Homo sapiens: one gene and its partners. The protein of the gene in region 1 interacts with the protein of each later gene in a pairwise test. Each region holds a gene or a part of one and is shown in the gene's direction. Other genes may lie near its edges.

Evidence for each region.
Region 2: the proteins of DYRK1A (region 1) and IGF2BP3 interact in binary tests that used the Homo sapiens proteins (3 or more experiments, as listed by UniProt).
Region 3: the proteins of DYRK1A (region 1) and FMR1 interact in binary tests that used the Homo sapiens proteins (3 or more experiments, as listed by UniProt).
Region 4: the proteins of DYRK1A (region 1) and PRDM4 interact in a two-hybrid assay, tested with the Homo sapiens proteins (one large-scale study listed by BioGRID and IntAct).
Region 5: the proteins of DYRK1A (region 1) and FAM53C interact in binary tests that used the Homo sapiens proteins (3 or more experiments, as listed by UniProt).
Region 6: the proteins of DYRK1A (region 1) and TROAP interact in binary tests that used the Homo sapiens proteins (3 or more experiments, as listed by UniProt).
Region 7: the proteins of DYRK1A (region 1) and IGF2BP2 interact in binary tests that used the Homo sapiens proteins (3 or more experiments, as listed by UniProt).

The regions. Positions count from the first base shown.
Region 1 is NC_000021.9:37,492,273-37,495,772, forward strand, and holds part of DYRK1A (dual specificity tyrosine-phosphorylation-regulated kinase 1A), read left to right. Parts: intron 1-744; coding exon 745-891; intron 892-3,500. UniProt on the Homo sapiens protein: Dual-specificity kinase which possesses both serine/threonine and tyrosine kinase activities. Exhibits a substrate preference for proline at position P+1 and arginine at position P-3.
Region 2 is NC_000007.14:23,467,692-23,471,746, reverse strand, and holds the start of IGF2BP3 (insulin-like growth factor 2 mRNA-binding protein 3), read left to right. Parts: upstream 1-1,255; 5' UTR 1,256-1,636; coding exon 1,637-1,811; intron 1,812-2,099; exon of another isoform or gene 2,100-2,171; coding exon of another isoform or gene 2,172-2,511; intron 2,512-3,204; coding exon 3,205-3,265; intron 3,266-4,055. UniProt on the Homo sapiens protein: RNA-binding factor that may recruit target transcripts to cytoplasmic protein-RNA complexes (mRNPs). This transcript 'caging' into mRNPs allows mRNA transport and transient storage.
Region 3 is NC_000023.11:147,928,919-147,932,418, forward strand, and holds part of FMR1 (fragile X messenger ribonucleoprotein 1), read left to right. Parts: intron 1-1,029; coding exon 1,030-1,123; intron 1,124-1,209; coding exon 1,210-1,326; intron 1,327-3,500.
Region 4 is NC_000012.12:107,747,638-107,751,137, reverse strand, and holds part of PRDM4 (PR domain zinc finger protein 4), read left to right. Parts: intron 1-3,500. UniProt on the Homo sapiens protein: May function as a transcription factor involved in cell differentiation.
Region 5 is NC_000005.10:138,341,266-138,344,765, forward strand, and holds part of FAM53C (protein FAM53C), read left to right. Parts: 5' UTR 1-70; coding exon 71-148; intron 149-543; coding exon 544-601; intron 602-3,500.
Region 6 is NC_000012.12:49,321,836-49,326,054, forward strand, and holds the start of TROAP (tastin), read left to right. Parts: upstream 1-1,419; 5' UTR 1,420-1,514; intron 1,515-1,768; 5' UTR 1,769-1,773; coding exon 1,774-1,917; intron 1,918-2,009; coding exon 2,010-2,202; intron 2,203-2,311; exon of another isoform or gene 2,312-2,319; coding exon of another isoform or gene 2,320-2,439; exon of another isoform or gene 2,440-2,553; intron 2,554-2,656; exon of another isoform or gene 2,657-2,741; intron 2,742-3,665; coding exon 3,666-3,823; intron 3,824-3,911; coding exon 3,912-4,049; intron 4,050-4,219. UniProt on the Homo sapiens protein: Could be involved with bystin and trophinin in a cell adhesion molecule complex that mediates an initial attachment of the blastocyst to uterine epithelial cells at the time of the embryo implantation.
Region 7 is NC_000003.12:185,642,630-185,644,836, reverse strand, and holds the end of IGF2BP2 (insulin-like growth factor 2 mRNA-binding protein 2), read left to right. Parts: 3' UTR 1-1,707; downstream 1,708-2,207.

The DNA.
Region 1 (3,500 bases):
TGAGCTTTCTGGCTGCATGGTTTGGGTGTTAGGAAATTTAGTTAGGATTTTATTTCTTTTCCACTTTTAATAAGTGAAACAAATTGGTCTCTGAAGACATCCTAACATTACTTCATTGAAAATAGTCCATTTCAGGATTGTCTTTCTATAAGAAGTCTTGGATGGAGGTAGAGAGAGAAGATGAGAGAAGAAGCTATTGGTCAGAGACAGCTCTCAATTGAATCTTTATGTGGCAGTGTTTCTGGGATTTATCTGTGAGACAGCAAGAGTACAAATATCTGAATTTTAAATTATATTATATTGAAGTTACTTGACTTTTAACGCTGAGAAATACATTGTTTGGGTTAATTTAAATACTATTTAGTTGTAAAGTTAGTGGTAAACTAAGTGCCAGCCATAGTAGGAAGAAATAATTATTAGGGAAATACATTGCTTTCAATAGTGTTTTTTTTTTCCTAGTGAGGCATAATTGTTTTAAGAAATATCATGATGACTAGGTAGGATTAGACTAAATGAAAGGGCTTGAATCTTTACGTATTATGCATTTCACAGTCAGATTAACCAATCCCTCAAAATGTTTAGTTCTTTAAGCCGTATTCGTAGTCTAATGTTGAAGTTAATCAATGGAACCCTAATTCAGGAATTAGCCAATTCTTTTCTGTTAATATCAGATCAATGTTTTTAATCCAATGCTGACTGCAGTTTTAAGCAATTGAAGTAATACTATTTTGAAATATATTTCAGATATACCAGTATATTCAGAGTCGCTTTTATCGGTCTCCAGAGGTGCTACTGGGAATGCCTTATGACCTTGCCATTGATATGTGGTCCCTCGGGTGTATTTTGGTTGAAATGCACACTGGAGAACCTCTGTTCAGTGGTGCCAATGAGGTAAATGATGTATTGCTTTACAAATTCTGTTTTCATAATTTCTTTTTGTCTTTCATCTGTGACAGTGTAATTTAAAAGTTGTTTTTAGGCAAAGATGTCTACTTAATCATTCAAATGTGAGGTCAGTTTGAATATACCTATTTTTCATATTTGTCAGTTGTCATGTAAGTTTAGAATTATGAGATAGGAGTAGGATATTTTAATCTACTCATGAAGGAGAACAGTTAGAAAGTGTTAAGTATTTTGGCATACATTTTACAGGTTTTAAATACAATACAGAAAGCTTAAAGATGATAAAGAATGAAGGCCATCCTGAAGAGTGATACAAACATCACTCTAAATTTTGAGATTATGATTTGGAGTTGAAGAGTAATGATCAGTAGGACTGATGGATACTCAGTCTGAATAATGTAGAGTAAACGAGATTATAGACTTGTAGGGCTACAGAGACTGTGTGCAGTTCTGAAGTCTACAGGTTTTCAGTCTGTGTTCTGGAAGATTTTTCAAGGTCAGAGGCAGTGAATGGGAGGGCAGGGACAGGCCTTAACTTCCCTGCAGTCAGAGAAATTAGACTTTCATTGTTTTAAAAACTACACCTGTGGGGTTTTGTTTGTTTTTTAAAAGAAAAATTGACAATTTGCACGTCTTGATCAGTCTATTTATAAATGAGAAGAGAAAGGCCAAAGGCATTAATGACTTGTACCGGATTACACAGCTGTTAATAGGTGGTGTCAGAAACTTGTTTCTTCCATCCTTCCTTTTAATTCTTCTTTTTTTTTTTTTTTTTTTTTCCCGGAGATGGAGTCTTGCTCTGTCACTCAGGCTGGAGTATAGTGGGGCAATCTTGGCTCCCGAGTAGCTGGAATTACAGGCAAGCGCCACTATGCCTGGCTAATATTTGGATTTTTACTAGAGTTGATGTTTCACCATGTTGGCCAGGCTGCTCTCGAACTCCTGACCTCAAGTGGTCTGCCCGTCTCAGCCTCCCAAAGTGCTGAGATTACAGGCGTGAGCCACTGTGCCCAGCCCCTTTTAATTCATTTCAACTTGAACTGGTGAGCTACTCTTTTATAGTAACTGTCATAGTTTGTTTTTTTTTTTAGTATAAATCTTACTGTGTAAATTAGTATCTTTCTTGGGCTTAAACAATATTAAAAAAACTTTGCCATGTTACTCATTGTAAAGGCCGAGGTCCTTTGAGTAACCCACAGATTCCTACTTCCTCTGATGCCAGTTCTCTCACCACCACCTGGTCTCTCCTTCTCCCCTCACTCTGTGGTCCCTTGAAAACGCCAGCTACAGGCCCATAGCCCTTTGTATTTCTTCCTTCCTGTGCCTAAAATGCTCTTTTCTGAGATACTCCTTTGCTGATGTTAGTGTTTGCTCTGATGTCACATTCTCGGTGAAACCATATACCCCACTTACGGTTGCAGTACCCCTTCTCCTCATCCCATAGTTCTTAGCCAGCATCTGACATCATGTATTTAATTATTTATTGATAATGCCGGGCGCAGTGGCTCACACCTGTAGTCGCAGCACTTTGGGAGGCTGAAGCAGGCAGATCACTTGAGGTCAGGAGTTCGAGACTGGCCCTGCCAATATGGTGAAACCCCGTCTCTACTAAAAATAGAAAAATTAGCCTAGTGTGGTGTTGCGTGCCTGTAATCCCAGTTACTTGGGAGGCTGAGGCAGGAGAATGGCTTGAACCCAGGAGGCAGAGCTTGCAGTGAGCCGAGATCACGCCACTGCCCTCTAGCTTGGGAGACAGAACAAGACTCCATTAAAAAAAAAAAAAAATTGTGTGTTTGTGTGTATATGTATTTGCTGTCTTCCCACTATAACATAAACTTCTTTTTGGCAGGAATTTTTATGTTTTGTTTATTATTTTCTACCACTGAATATGGTTCCTAGCATATAATAGGCACACTCATTTAAAGTACTTAAAAAAGTACTTTATTAGGTCCATACTTTATTAAGCCTCTGGGATTTTGTGTGTGTGTGTGTGTGTGTGTGTGTGTGTGTGTGTGTGTGTGTGTGTGGTTATTTAACATGCTCTGAAAACTGGGTTGGGTGCCGTACCTCACGCCTGTAATCCCAGCACTTTGGGAGGTCAAGGTGGGAGGATTGCTTTATCCCAGGAGTTTGAGACTAGCATAGGCAACATGGTAAAACCCCATCTCCACAAAAACTTTTAAAAATTAGCTGGGCATGGGGCCGGGCACGGTGGCTCACACCTGTAATCCCAGCACTTTGGGAGGCCAAGGTGGACAGATCATTTGAGGTCAAGAGTTTAAGACCAGTCTGACCAACATGGTGAAACCCTGTCTCTACTGAAAAATATGCCTGTAGTCCCAGTTACTCAGGAGGCTGAGGCAGGAGAATTGCCTGAACCTGGGAGGTGGAGGTTGCAGTGAGCCGAGATTGCGCCACCGCACTTCAGCTTGGGTGACAGAGCGAGACTCCATCTAAAAAACAAATAGCCGGGCATGGTGGTACATGCCTGTAGTCCCAGCTACTCAGGAAGCTGAGGTGAGAGGATCACTTGAGCCTGGGAGGAGGTCAAGGCTGCAGTGAGCTCTGAGTGCACCACTGTACTCCAGCCTGGGTGA
Region 2 (4,055 bases), on another chromosome or scaffold:
CACCATTGTACTCATTACATATAGAGAAAATTATGTATGGCTCTCATGGCCAAATCCAGGCAGAAAAGAGGCAGAAAGAGACTCGAACAATTTTTCAAATGCGAATACCACCTAGGGGTAATGCACGACGGTCTTCCAGTTTTAAGTCTCAAGTTCTCCAACTAAAATTACTTAAATAAAAGTACCAGCCTACTCCACTCCTCCCCCTTTAAAAACTACAGGAAGAGAGGGTTTCCCTTTACCGACTTTTCCCACTTTGACTTCTCTCCTCCAGCGGCCCAGGCCCCCGACGACCCCAGCCCCTAGCCAGAAACCTCCGCCCCTGCACTCCCCTCCCCCACCAGTGGCCAAGCCCGCCCCCGGCCTCATTTATCCTGGAGCCTTTTCTGAATCGCGCAACCAATGGCAAACGCGAAGCCGAGAGCCACCGCGAGCGCAGGCGGAGGCGGAGGAGGTGTCGCCCAGACACCCGCCCAGGACGCTGCGGGATCCCATCCCCCACCACTCCGGGGCCGGGCCGCCCCCACTCGCGCGGTGCCCAGGGCCCGAGAAGGGCGCACGGGGTGGGGCGCGTCGCCCGCCTGTCTTGCCCCCACCCCCTGCCCCCCTCACCCACTCCCCCACCCCTCCTCGCAGCATTTCCGTCCATGCCAGCCTTAGAAACGTGCCTGCGGCTTTGCTGGGGTTACACTTCTAATGCCATTAAAGCCACCAGGCGAGTTCGGGATTGTGACTCTGGTTTTGTTGTTAATAACCTATTTTGAAAAATCGAATGATTAAAACTACGGTAACTAGCGCTGAGGAACTGCCTGTTAGTACCTCTGCCCATTTCCTCATTAAAAAAAAAAAAATCAATATTCCAGCCCTCCCTCCCAGGATCCGCCCAGACCAGATAACCCTTTACAAACTCGAGTTGTGACCGTCAGCGCCCCGCTTGGTGCCGGCTGCGGTTCCTTTAGCATTTTCCTTCTTCCTCCTCCCCCTTCTCAGAGTCCCTCTCCCAATCTCGTTTCCCCTCCCCCTCTTCCTCTCGCTCGCTTTTTTCTCCGAAACCCACTCTAATTGAGGCTCTGGGATTCCTCACGTGAGACGTTGATTTGTAGTTTGAACACGTGGCTCATTCAAAAAGCCGGACACTCGGAGCGGATTTTTTCCGCCTCCTGCGCCTTCCTCCCTCCTCCTCCTCCTCCTCTCCCCTCCCTCCTGCCAGTCACCCTTCTGGGTTTTTTATGGGGAGGCGGCGCCTGCCTCACGTAGTGTGATATTTTCACAGTCCGCTGGCCGAAGCCAAAGGGGTTGGGAAGGAAGAGACAAAAAGTAGTTTTTTCCCCTCCTCCTCCTCCTTTCTCTTGCTAATCCCGCCTCCTCCTAAGACTTAGGAAGACTGGTGGATGCGTTTGGGTTGTAGCTAGGCTTTTTCTTTTCTTTCTCTTTTAAAACACATCTAGACAAGGAAAAAACAAGCCTCGGATCTGATTTTTCACTCCTCGTTCTTGTGCTTGGTTCTTACTGTGTTTGTGTATTTTAAAGGCGAGAAGACGAGGGGAACAAAACCAGCTGGATCCATCCATCACCGTGGGTGGTTTTAATTTTTCGTTTTTTCTCGTTATTTTTTTTTAAACAACCACTCTTCACAATGAACAAACTGTATATCGGAAACCTCAGCGAGAACGCCGCCCCCTCGGACCTAGAAAGTATCTTCAAGGACGCCAAGATCCCGGTGTCGGGACCCTTCCTGGTGAAGACTGGCTACGCGTTCGTGGACTGCCCGGACGAGAGCTGGGCCCTCAAGGCCATCGAGGCGCTTTCAGGTGGGCCCGGGCCTGGCCCCACCCGGGCTCTCGCCCCAGCCCTGCACCGCCCGCCCAGGCCCACCGGGTGGCTCCGCGGGCCCCAGGCCCGGCGCGCTGGGGGAGCGGGGGTGAGGCCTGAGCGCCCACACCCACGCGCGTGGGGGCCGGGGCTCTCCTCAGCTCCGGCTCCCACTCCGGCCCGCGGCTCTGCTTCCCCGGCCGGGGTTTGCTGGGTGAGGGCGAACGCGCTGTCAAGAAAGCCCCGGCGCTGGCTAAGGGGGGCGCGGGGCTGGGGGAGGCGCGCTCCCCCGGCGCCCCGCCCGGGCCCAGGCGCGTGCTCCAGGCCCCGGCACGCTGGGCCTCGGGGGCCGAGCTAGAATGCCCGCCTGTGCCTCGTTCCTTCCTGCTTTCCTCGGTCGTTATTTACGGCGCTGTCTGTGCTGCGCCCCGAAACCCCCGGCCGTGGAGAACGGAAAGTGGCCTCGACCGTGCTGCCGAGTGAGACCGCGAGGCTGGTGCCTCGCACAGGCGGCCCCGCGCTTCCTCCCCACCCTGTGGGAGGAGAGAGTGTGTGCCCGGTTTCCCCGTTCCACCTCCCCTGGTCCGACGAGCGATAGGGGCAGGTGGGCGGGGGCGGCTGGTCGCCTGGAAGGGAGTCGCCGCCACGCACCGGCCGCCCGCCGCTCTCCGGGCCCTGGCGCGGGGCTGCGGCCTCCGGGTATGGCTCCGCCAGGGCGAGGGACGGTGCCGGGCGGAGCAGGACGCCCAGGGGGAAGGCTGCGTTGGGGTCCCCATGGGAGCCCCGTGCCTTTCGGCTTCCCTTTTAATCAATTCAGACGTGGTGCGGGCGCCTCGCCGTCCTTCGCGCCTGGTTCAGCCTGTGCCGAGCTGCGCCTCTGCCAGTTCTCCCGTTCGTGGTCTCCCCTGCCGTCCCCGACCCTTTCTCGCCACTCCCTGTCTTCCTCAAGCCCACCGCTGAGTGTTCCCGGCGGGTCTGGGCTGAAGCAGAGGGCAGGGCCAGGGCGCCCCCTCCTGAAGAAAGCCAGGGGAGCCCCCTGCCCCGAGTCTGCCCTGTGGAGCGTGTCCAGGGCGGTGAGAGGGTGGGCCGCGTCCCTCTTGCGGGCCTCGTGGTGTTGGTGGCCCCCAGGGGTGGGTGGGGGAGGCTTGGAGACTGGACTGATACCCAAGTAGTGGGCCCGCCAGCGGACCCTGCTCCCCAACCATCTGCGAGTTAAATGCCCACGCCGCTCGAGGGGGTCGGCTTCTCCCTCCGCCTGGAGCCGCGTCCGGGCCTCGGGGGCCCTTCGAGGGCCTCAGGAGGCCATTTGTGTCGCCGCTTGGGCTGTGCGGGTCTTCGGGCAGGGAGAGCCGCTGAACTCGGCCGACCGTCTCACTTCTTGTGTGTCCGCAGGTAAAATAGAACTGCACGGGAAACCCATAGAAGTTGAGCACTCGGTCCCAAAAAGGCAAAGGTGAGCTGCTGCTTCTGTTTGCCCCGATTCTGTTCTCACTCCGTTATTGGGTGGAGAGACTCAGCTGAGAACTTCTTGTCCTCTGGTGCTTACCCCCTGCCGTGTGGCGTGGTGTTCCGGTCTTTAATCCTTGCTTTTAAGTTTATGGCGGGGGTGTGTGTGTTGATGATGCTGGGCAGGAATTGAAAGCTTTTCTGTGGCCTCTGCCGCGGGATTATGGTTATTGGTTACAAAATCTCTCGAAAGCTCACAGCTGAATGTCCTCGGTCCGAGCGGGTCAAATTGCTCCTACGGGAAATGGGTCCCAACAAGCAGTTTGGGGGGTTTGCAGGGCTTGGGAAGCAGCGGATGATTCCCCCACCCCTCCAGGAGCAGGAGAGGCGAAAGCAGCTGCGGACACGCGGGGGTCCCTCCTTTCCTTCTCTGTCCGGGGTTGGGAGGCCGTGGGCGCGGCCGAGTGGAGAGGAATTTGCCTCTGCCCTGTGAGCTCGCCAGGGGTATTGGAACGCGTGCGTAAACGCTGGGGCCTCTCTGGCCCAGAAGTGCCTTTGAGTCACTCCGAAGTTCTACAGGTTCCTGCAGTCAGCACCTTTGTCTCCCCGCTTTCCACCCCACTCCTCCTGGGTACATTTTTGCTTACAACCACCAAAAGATGAAGACAGGAAGATTCGTACTACTTAAGGACGGGGATTTCTCGTCTCCGAGATCATGTGTGTAGTATGTCGCTTTACAGAATGTTTATAGACTGTTTTAGCCTCTGAAGCATTTTGGAGACATGGCTCTTTCCCTT
Region 3 (3,500 bases), on another chromosome or scaffold:
GGTGGACTTTGGCAAAAATGGTTTGGTTTGCAAGAGCAATGGAGAAAAAACTTATTTAACTTTTCCTACTTATAGAATCAAGGCAGCCTTGCGCTTGTTTAAACTTACTTGGCTATACACGTGTCTGATGTACATAATGTACATTTGTTTTCTAAACTAACTTTGTTCATTCTAAGATTTAAAAACTGATCAAACAAATGTGATAATTCTGTCATAAGTCACAAACTATAAACGATTTCTCCGTTTTTTTCTCTTTTACCTAAAATGTTTTCAGATAAATGTGTAATAAGTAGAGCCAAAGAAGCTTTAAAAAGTCATCTCATCTTACAATCCTTGATCTGGAATAATGCTTAAAGACTATAGAAGAGACGCATTTTTATTTTTTACAGATTTTATTAAGTGAATACAGTACGTTTGATTTGGACATGTTGTTGAACATTAAATTGCAGTTCAGAATACATAGAAATCCTCCCTTTTCTAGAGATTGTGTATGTGTGTAAATTTTTGTGCCTTCTGGTTCATGTACGTTTCCTTCTCTCCCTCAAATCGTTTAGCAGTTTCTTACCCCATTCTCCGTGATGTGCTTATTTCATATTGCATGCCTGTATCAAAACATCTCATATGCCCCATAAATATATATACCTACTATGTACCCACAAAACTAAAAATTAAAAAAAAAGGAAAAAAAAAGGCCTGCAACAAGAGAAGAAGAAAGAAATCAGATACCCTGTAGGTAGCTATCTCCAAAAGTTTTCAATAGTTGACTTAAGAAAACTACTGACTTGTATGTAACTGAAATCAGGAAACCTGTAGTGTAGAGTGGTTCCCCTGAATATGTCTCTTTTGGTAATCTAAGCTGTATTTCAGAAATGTACAGAAAAGGAGCTAAGCTTCTAAATGGATATAGCATATTTTGCATAAATCAAATTTAATATGAATCCATGATTCTTGTATGTGTAAATCTGCCTGCATTTATTTATGTCAGTAGTTGGTAATTATTCATCTTAATTTTTTTTTTTAAATTTCTAGGTGTGCCAAAGAGGCGGCACATAAGGATTTTAAAAAGGCAGTTGGTGCCTTTTCTGTAACTTATGATCCAGAAAATTATCAGCTTGTCATTTTGGTGAGCATTTTTGAGTTGTTTATTTTTAGTTTAATTCATCTGGGGCAATTGCCTTGATAATAATGTTGTTAATTTAAATCATTTAGTCCATCAATGAAGTCACCTCAAAGCGAGCACATATGCTGATTGACATGCACTTTCGGAGTCTGCGCACTAAGTTGTCTCTGATAATGAGAAATGAAGAAGCTAGTAAGCAGCTGGAGGTATGTCACTTTCCCTAGCACTGCTTGTAAGGGTACCTAGGAACGATTAACTGTATCATTCCACAACTTGAATATGGGGAGCTTGTCATTTATTTACTGCTTCTTAACAATTCCTTAGGTTCTATAGTTGGAAAATTGTACAAAGCATAATCATACTAAAGTTTCCATGCCTGAGGTTTCAAAATTAAACAGCAGCTTATGTATATTAAGGGACTTCTGGTACTTTCACTTTTACTAGAAGTTTATCAAAGTTGCTAATAAAATGCGGCAATGCTTCTTCCATATAACATGTTGTCATTAAAAATACTAGAGAATATTTAAATATCTAATCATATTCCTCTCATTATGTATGTTTATCTTTGTTTAAAAGGGTATAGAACTTCTTCATTCTAATTGGTTGTCATTCTTTAAAACTCCTGTCTTCAGATTCCCGCCAGAGGCTATTTCCCTAACTTACTATTTTGTCTCTTAAGGTGCATTTTATCTACTTTTATTAATCCTCCAATAATTTTCATCACCATATATTTGTTTTCATTGATAACTATCAAGTACGTCCATCCATTACTATAGAAACTAAGTGGATCTTAGATGAATGTGCCAGCTCTACTATATTCCTGTCAAATTCCAGAGTTCGTCATCATTATTCATTAGAAGGAAAACACCACACATTTGAAATAGTAAAGAAAAAAAGGAGTTCCAAACTGCATTTTAGGAGAAAAGGTAGTCAAGACTGTGTTCTTATAAAAACCCTGTGAAATTTGCCACCTGTCAACTTGATGTATGATGCTGAACTCTTAGCAGAAGGGGAAAAGTTTAATCTCCTTTTGCCACTTTGTTTTTTCTTAAGGCCATGGAGGTCTGTTTAATTGGTCTTTGCTCTCATTCTTTCTTGATGTCCCTGTGTTCATGATTTTGTGGTTCCTTCAGTGATTCTCTCATAACTTTTAGCCCAGAGCTGCCTCCTTACTTTGATTGTGAGTATTATGAAAATATACTCATATGCCTCTTAAACATCGAATTATTCTTAAATGATCTATCATACTTTTGGCTAACCATTTATCAGTGAATTATCAATGAAAAAGAACGAACCAGATTAATGAACCAGGACTCAAAAAACATGACTTCTTGAAAAGTCCTAGAATTATTTTATAGATTTTATTACTCTAGTCTAAAAAAAATGGGTATTGCACTTTTAAATTATTTATGCTAGTTGTATTCATTCATTCAAATTATCAGGTCTGTTGAACAATGAGAAACTAGTATGCATGCCTATCTTTCTTCACTACTAATATTAAAGAGATTTACATGTTCCTATAAGAAATTCCCATTTTTCAACATGAGCCACTAATACGTTTGGTTTTCATTAATGGCATGCTAGAACTGAACACTAAATTTTGATAATGGTATTTAAAGACAGTGGTTATCCACAAGTTTGGGATGTCAGTGTAACTTAGTTTCGTCATCACTGGATATTTACAAGTGCTCATCATAATTGTGGATCCAGATCACAAGGTCTTACGGACTCTGGTCTCATGTTAGCTTTCAGATGCTTACTAAGTTTTTAATTTTTGACATTTTTTGATTATTCAGTTTAACTACTGTACCAACAATTTTTGATTCCTTAGGTTTTGAGGGAGGTGTCATTTTAATGTCATTTCAACAGAGGAATGTTTAGACCACAGTACCTAATGATGTTATAAAAAATGGCACTGTTTCCAGAAAATATATACTGATACCTTTTAATAAAAATGAAGCGAATAAAATTTTCTATAAAGATGATATTTAAACATTTTTTTACCTAAATAAGTAACATTGAGTTTGTCAGACCGAGTGAGCTGGTTTTTACTGGGGAACATTTGACCTGCTTCTTAGTTATTATATTGCTGATGTCATTGGTTAACTAAGGCAGCCTTGTGATAAGTTTTCAGCAGTTACCTTGGAAAATGTCAACAAGTTCTTTCCTATTAACAAAAACATATAAAATGTCATAGACCTTTAGTAACCTAAAAAGTACTTAGGCTGTGAGAGGTATTTTCTAAAACCTGTTAGTTTTAACCTAAAACTATTAATAATTTATGGACCCCTCATATACAGGGTCAAGATAATTTACATGGCTGGCCTAAATACAGTTGTCGTAATAGTTGATAAAGTGTATTCATCAGACGTCCATTTCT
Region 4 (3,500 bases), on another chromosome or scaffold:
CGGTAGTGTGTGCCTGTAGTCCCAGCTATTCTGGAGGCAGAGGCAGGAGGTTGCTTGAGCCCAGGAGTTTCAGGCTATAGTGTTCTGTGATCCCACCTGTGAATAGTCCCAGCTATTCTGGAGGCTGAGGAAGAGGGTTGCTTGAGCCCGGGAGTTTCAGGCTATAGTATGCTGCGATCACACCTGTGAATAGTACTGCACTCCGGCCTGGGCAACAAAGTGAGACCCTGTCTCTAAAAAACAATCATAGTGATAATACAATATTTTTTTAAAAAAGGTAAGTTTAGCCCAGTAATAGTTAAGGTATTTCCCAAGGTTTCACAAATAGAGAGTTATAGGGGTAAATTCTAGTAAAGCTGTTTGTGACATGCCTTGTGAAAATTATTCAGTCACTTTTATAACCCCATGGAAAAATGTAGGTGGATATAAACCAATTTTTTTCTTTGCTCAGAGTGCATATAAATTATTATTCTTGGGCGTGTAAAAGTTTTTCTTATTGGGCAACAACAACAAAAAACAATATAAAAACAGTTGATTTACTGGTGTCACTGTGTTTCATTCATGCAGGAAACATGTTGAGTGCTTATTTTAATTTATTGATAGGGTTTCTCTGTCGCCCAGGCTAGGGTGCAGTGGTGCGATCACGGCTCACTGTAGCCTCGACCTCCTGGGCTCAAGTGATCCTCCCACTTTAGCCTCCCGAGCAACTGGGACCCCAAGTGTGTACCACCACACCTGGCTAATTTTTAAATTTTTTGTAGAGATGGGGGTCTCACTGTGTTGCCTTGGCTGGTCTTGAACTCGACTCAAGCAATCTTCCTGCTTCAGCCTCCCAGAGTGCTAGGATTACAGGTGTGAGCCATCATGCTGGGCTTTTTAGTGCTTACTATGTGGCAGCCTCTGCTAGATGCTAGGGATAGAACGATCTACCAAGAGACAGTATGTGTACATACCTTTAAGGAGCTTACAGTCTGGTAGGAAGCATAGGAGACTGTTACAATATAGGATAATAATAAGTGTGACGATGGGGTGAAGTGCATTGGTACTAAAGTAGCCTGAAGGGGAGCAACTAGCCAGGCCATGGAAGGGTCGGGGAAGATTTAACCAAGGGAAGTAACATACATGTTAGCACAGACCTTAAGGACAAGAAAGATGTGGGCAGTTGAGAGTCAGGAAGACAGGAGCTGGCACCTGTAAGTGCCTAGAACCAAAAGAATCATGAGTGTTTCAGAATTGCTGAAGCATAAAATGAGGGTGAAGAGAGGGGTCATGTGGTGAGAGGAGAAGTAGGAGCCAGAACACAAAGGCTCTTTTAAGACCGGTCAAGAGTTTTAGGGAGTGAGGGTTGGGGTAGGGCTTTGCTGCAATGTGAGAATAAATTTGTTAAGAGGCAAGGAGGTGTGGAAGATATCATAATTTATGGGAAAGGTGATGATTCTCACCAATCTAGAGTAGAGGTAATTAGGATGCAGAAGAGTGGAGGACATTTGCAGAGAACCCAGTTGAGCTTATCGATTGGATAAAGTTGGAGGAGGGAAGCATTAAGGAGAAAACCCTGGTTTCTGGCTTCTGAAACTAGGTAGATAGAAACTAGGTAAGTAGAGAAGGCCATGTGTTGGCTCACACCTGTAATCCCAGCACTTTGGGAGGCTGAGGCAGAAAGATCATTTGAGACCAGGAGTTCAAGATCAGCCTGGGCAGCATAGTGAAACCCTGTCTCAGGAAAAAAAAAAAAAAAAAAGCAAACAGAAACTAAGTAGGTAGGGTAGTAGTGAAAGGCAGAGGAGGATATGATTTTGATTTTTATTATTTTGGGAGGAGTGACGATGAGTCAAGTTTTAGACATGTTGATTTCAGTGTCTGTAAGACACCCAGTAGAGATGTCTAATGAAAAGTTGTGTGTGGACCTGAGAGAGATCTGTCTGGAAATATTTAAGAATCATCAACATTAAGATGTTATTTGTGGCTGTAGAAGTGGAATGAAATCATCTAGTAAGAGTGTGGACTGAGAAGAGGGCTAGGGATATCAAGATATAGCAGAAGAGGAGCTTCCAAATAGACTCAACGGGAGCATCAAAAATAGGAGGAAGCCCAGAACCATTCTGTGCCACAAAATCCAGCCCATGGAGAGACTAGTTTTAACCTTTTAAAGTCTCAAATTTAGAGTTTTAAAATGTTTTAATCGAAGAATGTAATGAATATAAGGCTAATTTAGCAGAAGGTAGGAGGTGGCCTAAATAAGCTTATTGATTTTTTTCTTAAGAGGGCAAATGGAACCTCTTCTAAGTGTGTGTGGTTTATAATGAGATATAATTTATGTATACATTTTAAACGTGCAATTTAGTGGTTTTTTTGGTGTATTTACAAGGCTGTGCAACCACCACCACTGTCTCCTTCCAAAACATTTTAGTCACCCGGTAAAGAAACTTCATAACCATTAGTCACTTCCCATTCCCTCCTTCCGCGTATTCTCAGCAACCACTAATCTACTTTCTGTCTCTATGGATTTGCCTTTTCCAGATATTTCATATAAATGGAATCATGCGATACTTGGCCTTCTGGATCTAGTTTCTTTCTCTTCGCATAATACTGTTCTGTCTCATCCATGTTGTAGCATGTATTTGTACTTCATTTCTTTTTAGAGCTGAATAATCTGTAATATGGATATACCACATTTTGTTTATCCATTTATCAGTTGATGGACATTTGGGTTGTTTCTGCTTTTTGGCTACTATGAATAATGCTGTTATGAACTCTCATGTACAAGTTTTTGTGTGAACATCTGTTCTTGGATATTTAGGAGTAGAATTGCCGTATGTTTAACTTTTTGAGGAACTGCTTTCCAAAGTGGCTGTGCCATGTTACCGTCCTAGCAGCAGTGGATGAGGGTTCTAATTTCTCCACATTTTTGCCAACAGTTAATTTTTTATTTTTATTTATTTATTTTTTTATTTTTTTGAGACAGAGTCTGGCTCTGTCACCCAGGCTGGTGTGCAGTAGCGCAATCTCAGCCTCACTGCAACCTCCACCTCCCGGGTTCAAGCCATCCTTCCACCTCAGCCTCCCCAGTAGCTGGGACTACAAGTGCTCGCCACCATGCCTGGCTGATTTTTTGTATTTTTGGTAGAGACGATTTGCCGTGTTTCTACCTGGTCTCATGCGTTCGAGACCAGCCTAGGCAACATGGCAAAACCCTGTCTCTAGCAAAAGTATTAAAAAATCAGCCAGACGTGGTGGTGCATGCCTGTGGTCCCAGCTACCCAGCAGGCTGAAGCAGGAACGCCACTGCACTCCAGCCTTGGTGACAGATCGGGACCCCGTCTTAAAAAAAAAAAGAAAAGACAGATAGATGACTGTGGTTCTAAGGTTTATGTATTCCAACTATTTTGTGAATGGTTGTGGAGTTTAAATGTAATGATTGAGTAATAGTATCATAAATACTGTTCCTTAGCAGAGTGGAAAGTGTAAAGAATAGAGCAGAAGATTTACGGAGGAGGACA
Region 5 (3,500 bases), on another chromosome or scaffold:
TCTGGAAGAACAACAGGGAAGACATCCATCATTTGCTCCAAAGTGTGCAAGTCAAATCCTGGGGAGAATCATGATAACCCTGATCACTGAGCAGCTACAGAAGCAGACTCTGGATGAGCTGAAATGCACACGCTTCAGCATCAGTCTGGTAAAAGACCAGTCTTCCTGCTTCTCCACGACCCCCTCCCCCTTTTTTCTGAGGCTGATTGTTGCTATTACTTTACTCTTGTCCTGTGCTGTATGAATCATGGTACTTAACCTGGAAGAGCCCACTAATGGCTCAAAACCCAGCCCAAAAGGAAGGGGGCAGGGATTTTTCCACCGATAGAGAAGGGACAGCAAAACTTGGGTGGAGAAGGGTTTGAGATGTTGGAAGATGTGGATTGTTTGACTTACTAACTTTGGGAAGACAAGAGGAAGAACACTTAATGTCCCTAACATCCCTGTAGCTCATGAATCGCAGAGGAGAACTGAAGAGGGCTTCCTAGAAATCTGTCAGTGTGTCCTGAATCCAAATCATGATGGATATTCTCTCTTTCTTAGCCTTTGCCTGATCATGCAGACATCTCCAACTGTGGGAACTCTTTCCAGCTTGTGTCTGGTAAGGCATCGTGTGTGTTTGTGTACGTGTGTGTACCCATTCCTCTCTCCACACATTTCTATCATTGGTTTCCAGTGACCAGGGCTAGCGAGCCTACCTCTAGAACCTTCTTGCCAGGGTCAACTTCTGAGATTGACAGTTGTCTTTCATGTTCTAGCATGAAAGTTATCTGGTTGGTTTGCTCTTATTCTAGCTTTGTGGGGACTTGTATAATCTAATTTTTTGAATAGGTAATACATTCACATGGTTCAAAATTTAAAAAATAACAACAAAAAGGTTATGCTGAGAAAAGTCTCTCTTACTCTCCCGTTCCCTATCTACCCAGCTTCTACCACCTCCCTAAAAGTATTAGTTTCTTATACAGTATATGTGACTAGAATTTCTTTATATAAAAAGAAGCAAATGTATATATTTATTTCCTTTCTTTTTTAAGTTCTCGGATACATGTGCAGAACGTGCAGGTTCGTTACATAGGTGTACATGTGCCATGGTGGTTAGCTGCATCTATTTTATTTCCACGTTTTTAACACAAAAGGTTGCATACTATATATTATTTTGTACCTTTAAAAAAAAAAATGGGACCGGGCCTAGTGGGTCACACCTATAATCCCAGCACTTTGGGAGGCCAAGGTGGGCAGATCACCTGAGGTCGGGAGTTCAAGACCAGCCTGACCAACATGGAGAAACCCCATCTCTACTAAAAATATAAAATTAGCCAGGCGTCGTGGCGCATGCCTGTAATCCCAGCTACTCGGGAGGCTGAGGCAGGAGAATCACTTGAACCCAGGAGGTAGAGGTTGCGGTGAGCCAAGATTGCGCCATTGCACTCTAGCCTGGGCAACAAGAGCAAAACTCTGTCTCAAAAAAAAAAAAAAATTGCTGGGCACAGTGGCTCATGCCTGTAATCCTAGCACTTTGGGAGGCCGAGGTGGGCGGATCATGAGGTCAGGAGTTCGAGACCAGCCTGGCCAACACAGTGAAACCCTGTCTCTACTAAAAATACAAAAATTAGCCTGGCATGGTGGTACACACCTGTAATCCCAGCTACTCGGGAGGGCAAGGCAGGAGAATCACTTGAACCCAGGAGGTGGAGGTTGTGGTGAGCCCAGATCATGCCACTGCACTCCAGCCTGCACAACAAAGCAAGACTCCATCTCAAAAAAAAAAAAAACAAAAAACAAAAAAAACTTTAATATAGCTAGGAGATCTTTCCCTATCAGAATGCTGAGTATTCATTCCCTTGTTATATATAGCTACATATTATTACACTGCATAGATGTACAGTGGCTTATTTAATGAGTTTTCTATTGATGTGCATTTAGGTTATTTCTAATCTTGTTTGGATACATAAAACTGTAGTGGGCCAGACGTGGTGACTCATGCCTGTAATCCCAGCACTTTGGGAGGCCGAGGTGGGCAGATAGCATGAAGCCAGGAGTTCGAGACCAGCCTGGCCAGCATGGTGAAACCCCGTCTCTATTAAAAATACAAAAATTAGCTGGGCATGGTGGCAGGCGCCTGTAATCCCAGCTACTCAGGAGGCTGAGGCAGGAGAATCCCTGGAATCCAGGAGGCGGAGGTTGCAGTGAGCCGAGATCGCACCCACTGCACTCCAGCTTGGGCAACAGAGCGAGATTCCATCTCAAAAAAAAAAAAAAGAAAGAAAAAAGAAACTGTAGTGAATAACCTTGTACATATGTCATTTTTTCACATGTGAAAATATATCTGAGGTATAAATTCGTAGATTATTAATTACTGAGTTAAAGGGCCCCTGATCGTAGGGACATTTAGATGGAGGCATCACTGGTGGACAATCAGAACTCCCTAACTCGTGCTGCTCAGCAGTTCTGCATCTCATTTTCTTTTCTGGGATACCTAGCAAGGGAAGTGAGTTGGCAAAAACATGTTCATTCAGTCTCTTCCTCCTGTTTATTAAAGACTTGCTGAAAGCCAGGTATTGTGTCATAAGTATAGAGCAGGAACTCATGGTCCCTGCCCTCATAGTGGTTAGTAGAGGGAAGAACTATAGACCAAATACACTCAGTATGAATTTTGCCACCATCAAGTCTGACTTCGTATACTTGTCGTTTGCCCCAAATATCCAGCCCCTGCAGAATTCCAGCCAGCTAGCCAGAGGAGTTTGGATTAGGCCCTTTGTCCCTTAATGAGCCGTCTCCCAAAAGTCACAATTTTGGTTGGAATACAGTGAGTGAGGATTGTTTCTTTTAGTCCATTTTCCCTTCCTTCTCTTGGTCCCTCCATCTGTTTGGATTTAAGAGAAGGCCTAGGGGAAGGGAATCGGAATATGTGGGTGGCCAGACAGAAACGAAGATGAGCAGCACAAAGTCAGGGTTTCCCAAGCCCAGGTTTCACTGTCAAAGGCCTTCCCCACCCTGTTTGCCCTCCCTAGGAATAAAAGTGATCTCTTACCTGCCTGATTACCTCTTACTTCTTGGCAGTCCTAACTCCTGACTTGGTGCTGTTGACACATGAGAGGAGGAAAGGCCGAGAAAGAAGAGCATAGGCCTGCTTTTCAGCATCCAGGGCAAGCGTGGGGGAGGGGCGAGGGAGAGATGAGCAGGACACTCACAAACGTGTTTGTTTCTCTTGACTTCTTTTACCTTTGAGAGGGAGTGGCAGGCAGTAGATGAAATGTTTTTGATTCCAGGTAGTTGGTCACAATGGAGGCAATAGAGCATAGTGGTTTAAAAACCTAGCCTTCGCATCAGACAGACCTGGATTTGAATCCTCCTTTGGTCTTTTGAGTGCTATGTGATTTTGGGAAAGTTATTGAATTTCTCTTATCTGTGAAATGGGGATAATGATAACGATACTACCTACCTCATAAGGTTTTTGGAAATTTTCACATAAAATGCTCCATACATTATGTGGCAAATGG
Region 6 (4,219 bases), on another chromosome or scaffold:
TGGTGGCAGGCACCTGTAGTCCCAGCTACTTGAGAGGCTGAGGTTCCCACCTCAGGAGGCCGAGGCTGCGGTGAGCTGAGATCGCACCACTGCACTCCAGCCTGGGCGACAGAGTGAGACCCTGTCCCAAAAATGCATAAATAGTAAAACTAGTGAGAGTGAATGAGAGATGGGATATGTAAAGGGAGTGGGAGGAGTTAAGGAGTAACTCCTCGGTTTCTGGCTTGTGTAAGAATAACTTCTGTGATTGGTGGGGAAAATCCACCAGAGTTCTGTTAAGTGTTGTTCATTTCCTGTCCCCCGTTAGGGGTTACCCCTTCCATCTTAAGCAGGATATTCTAGGATCTCTCAGTCTCACAGCCTTGCCCACCAATAACCAGCAGGTGAGCCCCCTCTCCCCAGACCTCTAGATCTGCAAAAGGCAACCTGGAGGCAAGGAAATCCCCAGCTGTGAGTAGCCATTCAATTCTGGTGCTGTGGTAACTGAGTTCAAAAACAATGAGTCTTGTTACCTACCCGTAAAATGAAAGACACCTCATCAGACACCTCACTGGATTGTGAGGCTCCAAGGAGCACACATATTGTTAGGCTCAGTTCGATTCCCTCCAGCCCTCTCCGCCCGTTTGAAGGCAGTTCCTTATCCCGGAGACAACGTACAGATGTTCTCTCTTTCCCTCTTTATTTTTTTTAAGACAGGGTCTCTGTTGCCCAGGCTGGAGTGCAGTGGCGCGACCACAGCTCACTACAGCCTCAACCTCCTGGGCTCAACACGATCCTCCTGCCTCAGCCTCCAGAGCGGCTGGGACTACAAGCGCGCACCACTGCACAGGGATTATTATTATTATTTTATTATTTTGTAGAGAAACGGGTGGGAGTGGTCTCGCTATGTTGCCCAGGCTGGTCTCAAACTCAGCTCAAGAGATCCTCCCGCCTCGGCGTCCCAAAGTGTTGGGATTACAGGCGCCTGCCACCGCGCCCGGACGCAGATATTTTCTATGGGCATCTGGAATGGCGTCCCCAAAGCTTGGCGCCGTGCTATGGTCAAGCCGGGTCGGGGGCTCGGGCCAGCCTTCAACACCGTTGGCAGCAATCGGAACGATCAACTGTACCCTCAGTACCGCGACCTCGCCCGGTCCTGCCAATGGCCGGCCCCTAGCCGGTCCTGAGGCCTCGCGAGAGCTCCCGTGGCTACGCCTTCCCCGGCCTCGGAACGGCCCCATCCTTCCTCTTTCCCCGCCTCCCAGCGGCGCTCCACTCTCGGATTGGCTGATTGATCCGAGTCAGTTTTTTTCCTCGCCAGAAAGCGGTTCGACAATTGGTCCTTCTTTTGGCCCCTCCTGCGATGCCCGCGGATTGGACGGCTGAGTCTGGCTACGCGGGCCTCCGCGGGAGCGCGACCGGGCCAATCAAGAGCTTGGCGTATTTTACAAACTGAGAAAGTAGCTCCAGCAGCACCCGAGAGGGTCAGGAGAAAAGCGGAGGAAGCTGGGTAGGCCCTGAGGGGCCTCGGTAAGGTAAGGCACGGGGGTCTTGAAGGGAACGAAGGCTGCTGGGTTCATAGGGAGGAGGGCAGTTTGGGGCCCGAGGGCGAAAGAGTAGGCTCGGGGTGTCTGGAGATAGCACCCATAAGAGCGGTCTTGCAGGCGCCGGGGGCTTGTGGGCGCGTGGATTAGGGCGGAGGTATCAGGGATGGCAGGACAGGTGCCCCGAGAACTGGTTGATCTTTGATCTTAGATTCTGCCTGCCTTCTTCCCCGTCTCAATTGTAGCCATCATGACCACCCGGCAAGCCACGAAGGATCCCCTCCTCCGGGGTGTATCTCCTACCCCTAGCAAGATTCCGGTACGCTCTCAGAAACGCACGCCTTTCCCCACTGTTACATCGTGCGCCGTGGACCAGGAGAACCAAGATCCAAGGGTAAGAGGGGCCTAATGGGGGAAGACAGTAGTCACACCAGTAATGCACCCCAACACTAAACCTCACCTTTTTGTCCCCGCTCCCTCCCCTAGAGATGGGTGCAGAAACCACCGCTCAATATTCAACGCCCCCTCGTTGATTCAGCAGGCCCCAGGCCGAAAGCCAGGCACCAGGCAGAGACATCACAAAGATTGGTGGGGATCAGTCAGCCTCGGAACCCCTTGGAAGAGCTCAGGCCTAGCCCTAGGGGTCAAAATGTGGGGCCTGGGCCCCCTGCCCAGACAGGTACCTGTTGGAGCCATGGTAACACGGCCTCCATGGCTGAGTAGGGGACTAGGAAGGGTAAAAGTGGGGTTTTGGGGTTTTGCACTCACTCCTGCTGTCTCCTACTTACTGTGATAGTCCTGGTCCCAGCTCCTGGAAAGCTCTTTGCTCTTAGAAGATCTCCCTTTCCTCCAGCAAAATGTCATCTCGCCAGGTGCCATGGCTTGTACCTGTAATCACAGCTACTCAGGAGGCTGAAGCAGGAGGATCACTGGAGGCCAGGAGTTGGAGACCAGCCTGGATGACAGAGGGAGATCCCATCTCTTTAAAAAATAAATAAATAAATAAATAATAAATATCACTTCTTCTGAAGCCTTTTCCAGTTCCCCATGTCACAATCAGTTGCTCTGTGTTCTCCTAATACTTTGCAGCACTTCTTTTATAACATGTATATACCTTGGCTTGAGTCTGTTACCTGTCTATAGTTTGATGATAGCCTCTTGAGGATAGGGGCTTTGTCTTATTCTTATGGGACCCCAGTGCTTAGAATAGTGTCTTATGTAACATTCTATGAACATTTGGTGACCAGGTGTGGTGGCTCACGCCTGTAATTCCAACACTCCTCCGAGGCAGGAGGATCATTTGAGCTCAGGAGTTTGAGACCAGCCTAGGCAACATAGTGAGACCCCATCTCTTTTTCTCTTTTTTTTTTTCTTTTCTTTTTTTTTTGTGGAGACAGAGTCTTACTCTATCCCTCAGGCTAGAGTACAGTGGCATGATCTCGGCTCACTGCAACATCCACCTCCCAGGTTCAAGCGATTCTCATGCCTCACCCCGAGTACCTGGGATTACCAGCACCTGCCACCACACCCAGCTAATTTTTGTTTTCTTTCTTTTTTTTTTTTTTTTTTTTGAGACAGAGTCTCACTCTGTCACTAAGCTGGAGTGCAGTGGCACGATCTTGGCTCATTGCAACCTCCACCTCCCAGGTTCAAGTGATTCTCCAGCCTCAGCCTCCTGAGTAGCTGGTACTACAGGCGCGCGCCACCAGGTCCAGCTAATTTTTTTTTGTTTTTGTTTTTTGTAGAGATGGGGTTTTACCATGTTGGCCAGGCTGGTCTCAAACTCCTGACCTCAGGTGATCCACCTGCCTCAGCCTCCCAAAGTGCTGGGATTACAGGAGTGAGCTACCGCACCCAGCCAATTTTTGTATTTTTTTAGTGGAGACAGGGTTTTGCTATGTTGGCCGGGTTGGTCTCAAACTCCTGACCACAGGTGATCCACCCGCCTCGGCCTCCCAAAGTGCTGGGATTACAGGCATGAGCCACTGCACCCAGCCATCTATTTCTTAAAAAAAAAAAAAAAAATAAGCCAAATTCAATTGAATGAGTCTCTTGCTCACCTTGTACCTCAAAGTTCCTATGCTAGGGGCCCTATCCCCCTCAGCCTTCCCCCTTCCTTTTCCTTCTCCTCTTTCCTTGCAGAGGCTCCAGGGACCATAGAGTTTGTGGCTGACCCTGCAGCCCTGGCCACCATCCTGTCAGGTGAGGGTGTGAAGAGCTGTCACCTGGGGCGCCAGCCTAGTCTGGCTAAAAGAGTACTGGTTCGAGGAAGTCAGGGAGGCACCACCCAGAGGGTCCAGGTAATGAAACAGGATGTGAGGAGACCAGGCTAGGGGGCACTGAGGGGGGCATCCTGAGCAGTGCTGACAGCCTCTGTTGGTGTCCCAGGGTGTTCGGGCCTCTGCATATTTGGCCCCCAGAACCCCCACCCACCGACTGGACCCTGCCAGGGCTTCCTGCTTCTCTAGGCTGGAGGGACCAGGACCTCGAGGCCGGACATTGTGCCCCCAGAGGCTACAGGCTCTGGTGAGTGCCCTTGAGGGGCTGATAGTCGGTGCTTCTGGGAGCTCCTTCCAGGGACAAAGCTGGGCTCTGGGAGAAGAGGTACCTCATGATGAGGCAAGGGATCCTACTGGGGGAGATGGGGTTGGTGGTGAGGCCTGAGGGTTTGGGGTCCACCTCTGATTCCGTTTTCA
Region 7 (2,207 bases), on another chromosome or scaffold:
TGTCAACAGAAGGGATACCGTCTCCTTGAAGAGGAAACTCTGTCACTCCTCATGCCTGTCTAGCTCATACACCCATTTCTCTTTGCTTCACAGGTTTTAAACTGGTTTTTTGCATACTGCTATATAATTCTCTGTCTCTCTCTGTTTATCTCTCCCCTCCCTCCCCTCCCCTTCTTCTCCATCTCCATTCTTTTGAATTTCCTCATCCCTCCATCTCAATCCCGTATCTACGCACCCCCCCCCCCCCAGGCAAAGCAGTGCTCTGAGTATCACATCACACAAAAGGAACAAAAGCGAAACACACAAACCAGCCTCAACTTACACTTGGTTACTCAAAAGAACAAGAGTCAATGGTACTTGTCCTAGCGTTTTGGAAGAGGAAAACAGGAACCCACCAAACCAACCAATCAACCAAACAAAGAAAAAATTCCACAATGAAAGAATGTATTTTGTCTTTTTGCATTTTGGTGTATAAGCCATCAATATTCAGCAAAATGATTCCTTTCTTTAAAAAAAAAAAATGTGGAGGAAAGTAGAAATTTACCAAGGTTGTTGGCCCAGGGCGTTAAATTCACAGATTTTTTTAACGAGAAAAACACACAGAAGAAGCTACCTCAGGTGTTTTTACCTCAGCACCTTGCTCTTGTGTTTCCCTTAGAGATTTTGTAAAGCTGATAGTTGGAGCATTTTTTTATTTTTTTAATAAAAATGAGTTGGAAAAAAAATAAGATATCAACTGCCAGCCTGGAGAAGGTGACAGTCCAAGTGTGCAACAGCTGTTCTGAATTGTCTTCCGCTAGCCAAGAACCTATATGGCCTTCTTTTGGACAAACCTTGAAAATGTTTATTTAAAAAAAAAAAAGATGACAAAGAAAAACAGAGAGAGAGAATATTGGAGATGTCCTGAATTTTAATAGGGTACGCGCCATTAGGGCTTTTTGCGCTAAAGGATGAACATGTACTGGTTTATGTGGACAAGCCATTATACCACCAGACTGCAATGCCAGTTTCCTCTACTGCAAACAGTGTTCTGTGACAAAAAAAAAAAAAAAAAAAAGAAAAAAAAAGAAAAAACAGAAATATATCCAGCTAACAAGATCCTGGTGTCTTGGTGTTTTATTTTACTAGGCATTGCCTCATCCCAGGTGTCAGCTGAGTCCTAGCTCTGAGGGACCTGGGCAGACAGGCGGTAGGTGTGACCTGGATCCACACAGCTACTCTGAGAAAGCTGGTTTTGCCCAGGAAAGTCTTTGGGAGAAGCTAAACTAGATCGGTGGTCAAAGTGTAGTCCCCAGACCAGCAGCATCAGCTATCATCTGGGAACTTGTTAGAAATGTAGATTCTTGGGGTCCACCTTGAATCAGAAATCCTGGGGGTGAGGCCCAGCAACCTTTTCAGCAAGGCCTCTGGGTGATTGCTGTGCGCACTGAAGTTTCCGAACCTCGGAGCTAGAGGGATGGATCGACTGCATGTCAAGCTAGAGAAGACCAGTCTATCCTTAAGGAACTGCAAGCCTGGCCAGGCAAAGCTGCTTTTTAAGTGGAGGAAAGGGGGAGGATAATATGCCCGGCAGTTCCGGGAAGAGGCACTTCACGCCTCCACGGGAAGCTCACTAGTAAGTGCAGGCATACCTCAGGAACGTCGCAGGTTCAGTTCCAGACCACCACAGTAAAGCGAACTTTGCAATAAAATGAGTCATACACGTTTTAGTGTCTCACTGCATGTGAGTTATGTTTACACTGTATTAAGTGTACAATAGCATTATGTCTAAAACAGTGGGTTTTTTTTGTTTTTTTTTTTTTGACACAGAGTCTCGCTCTGTCGCCCAGGCTGGAGTGCAGTGGCACGATCTCAGCTCACTGCAACCTCTGCCTCGTGTATTCAAGCAATTCTCCTGCCTCAGTCTCCCGAGTAGTTGGGACTACAGGCATGTGCCACCCCACATGGCCATTTTTTGTATTTTTACTAGAGACGGGGCTTCACTGTGTTAGCCAGGACGGTCTCAATCTCCTGACCCCGTGATCTGCTTGCCTCAGCCTCCCAAAGGGCTGGGATTACAGGCGTGAGCCACTGTGCCCGGCCCAACAGTGTACATATCTTAATTAAAAATAATTTATTGCTAAAGAATGCTAACGATCATCCGAGCCTTAGGCAAGTTGTACTCTTGGCTAGTGAAGAGTTTTGCCTCAATGTTGATGGCTGCTGAC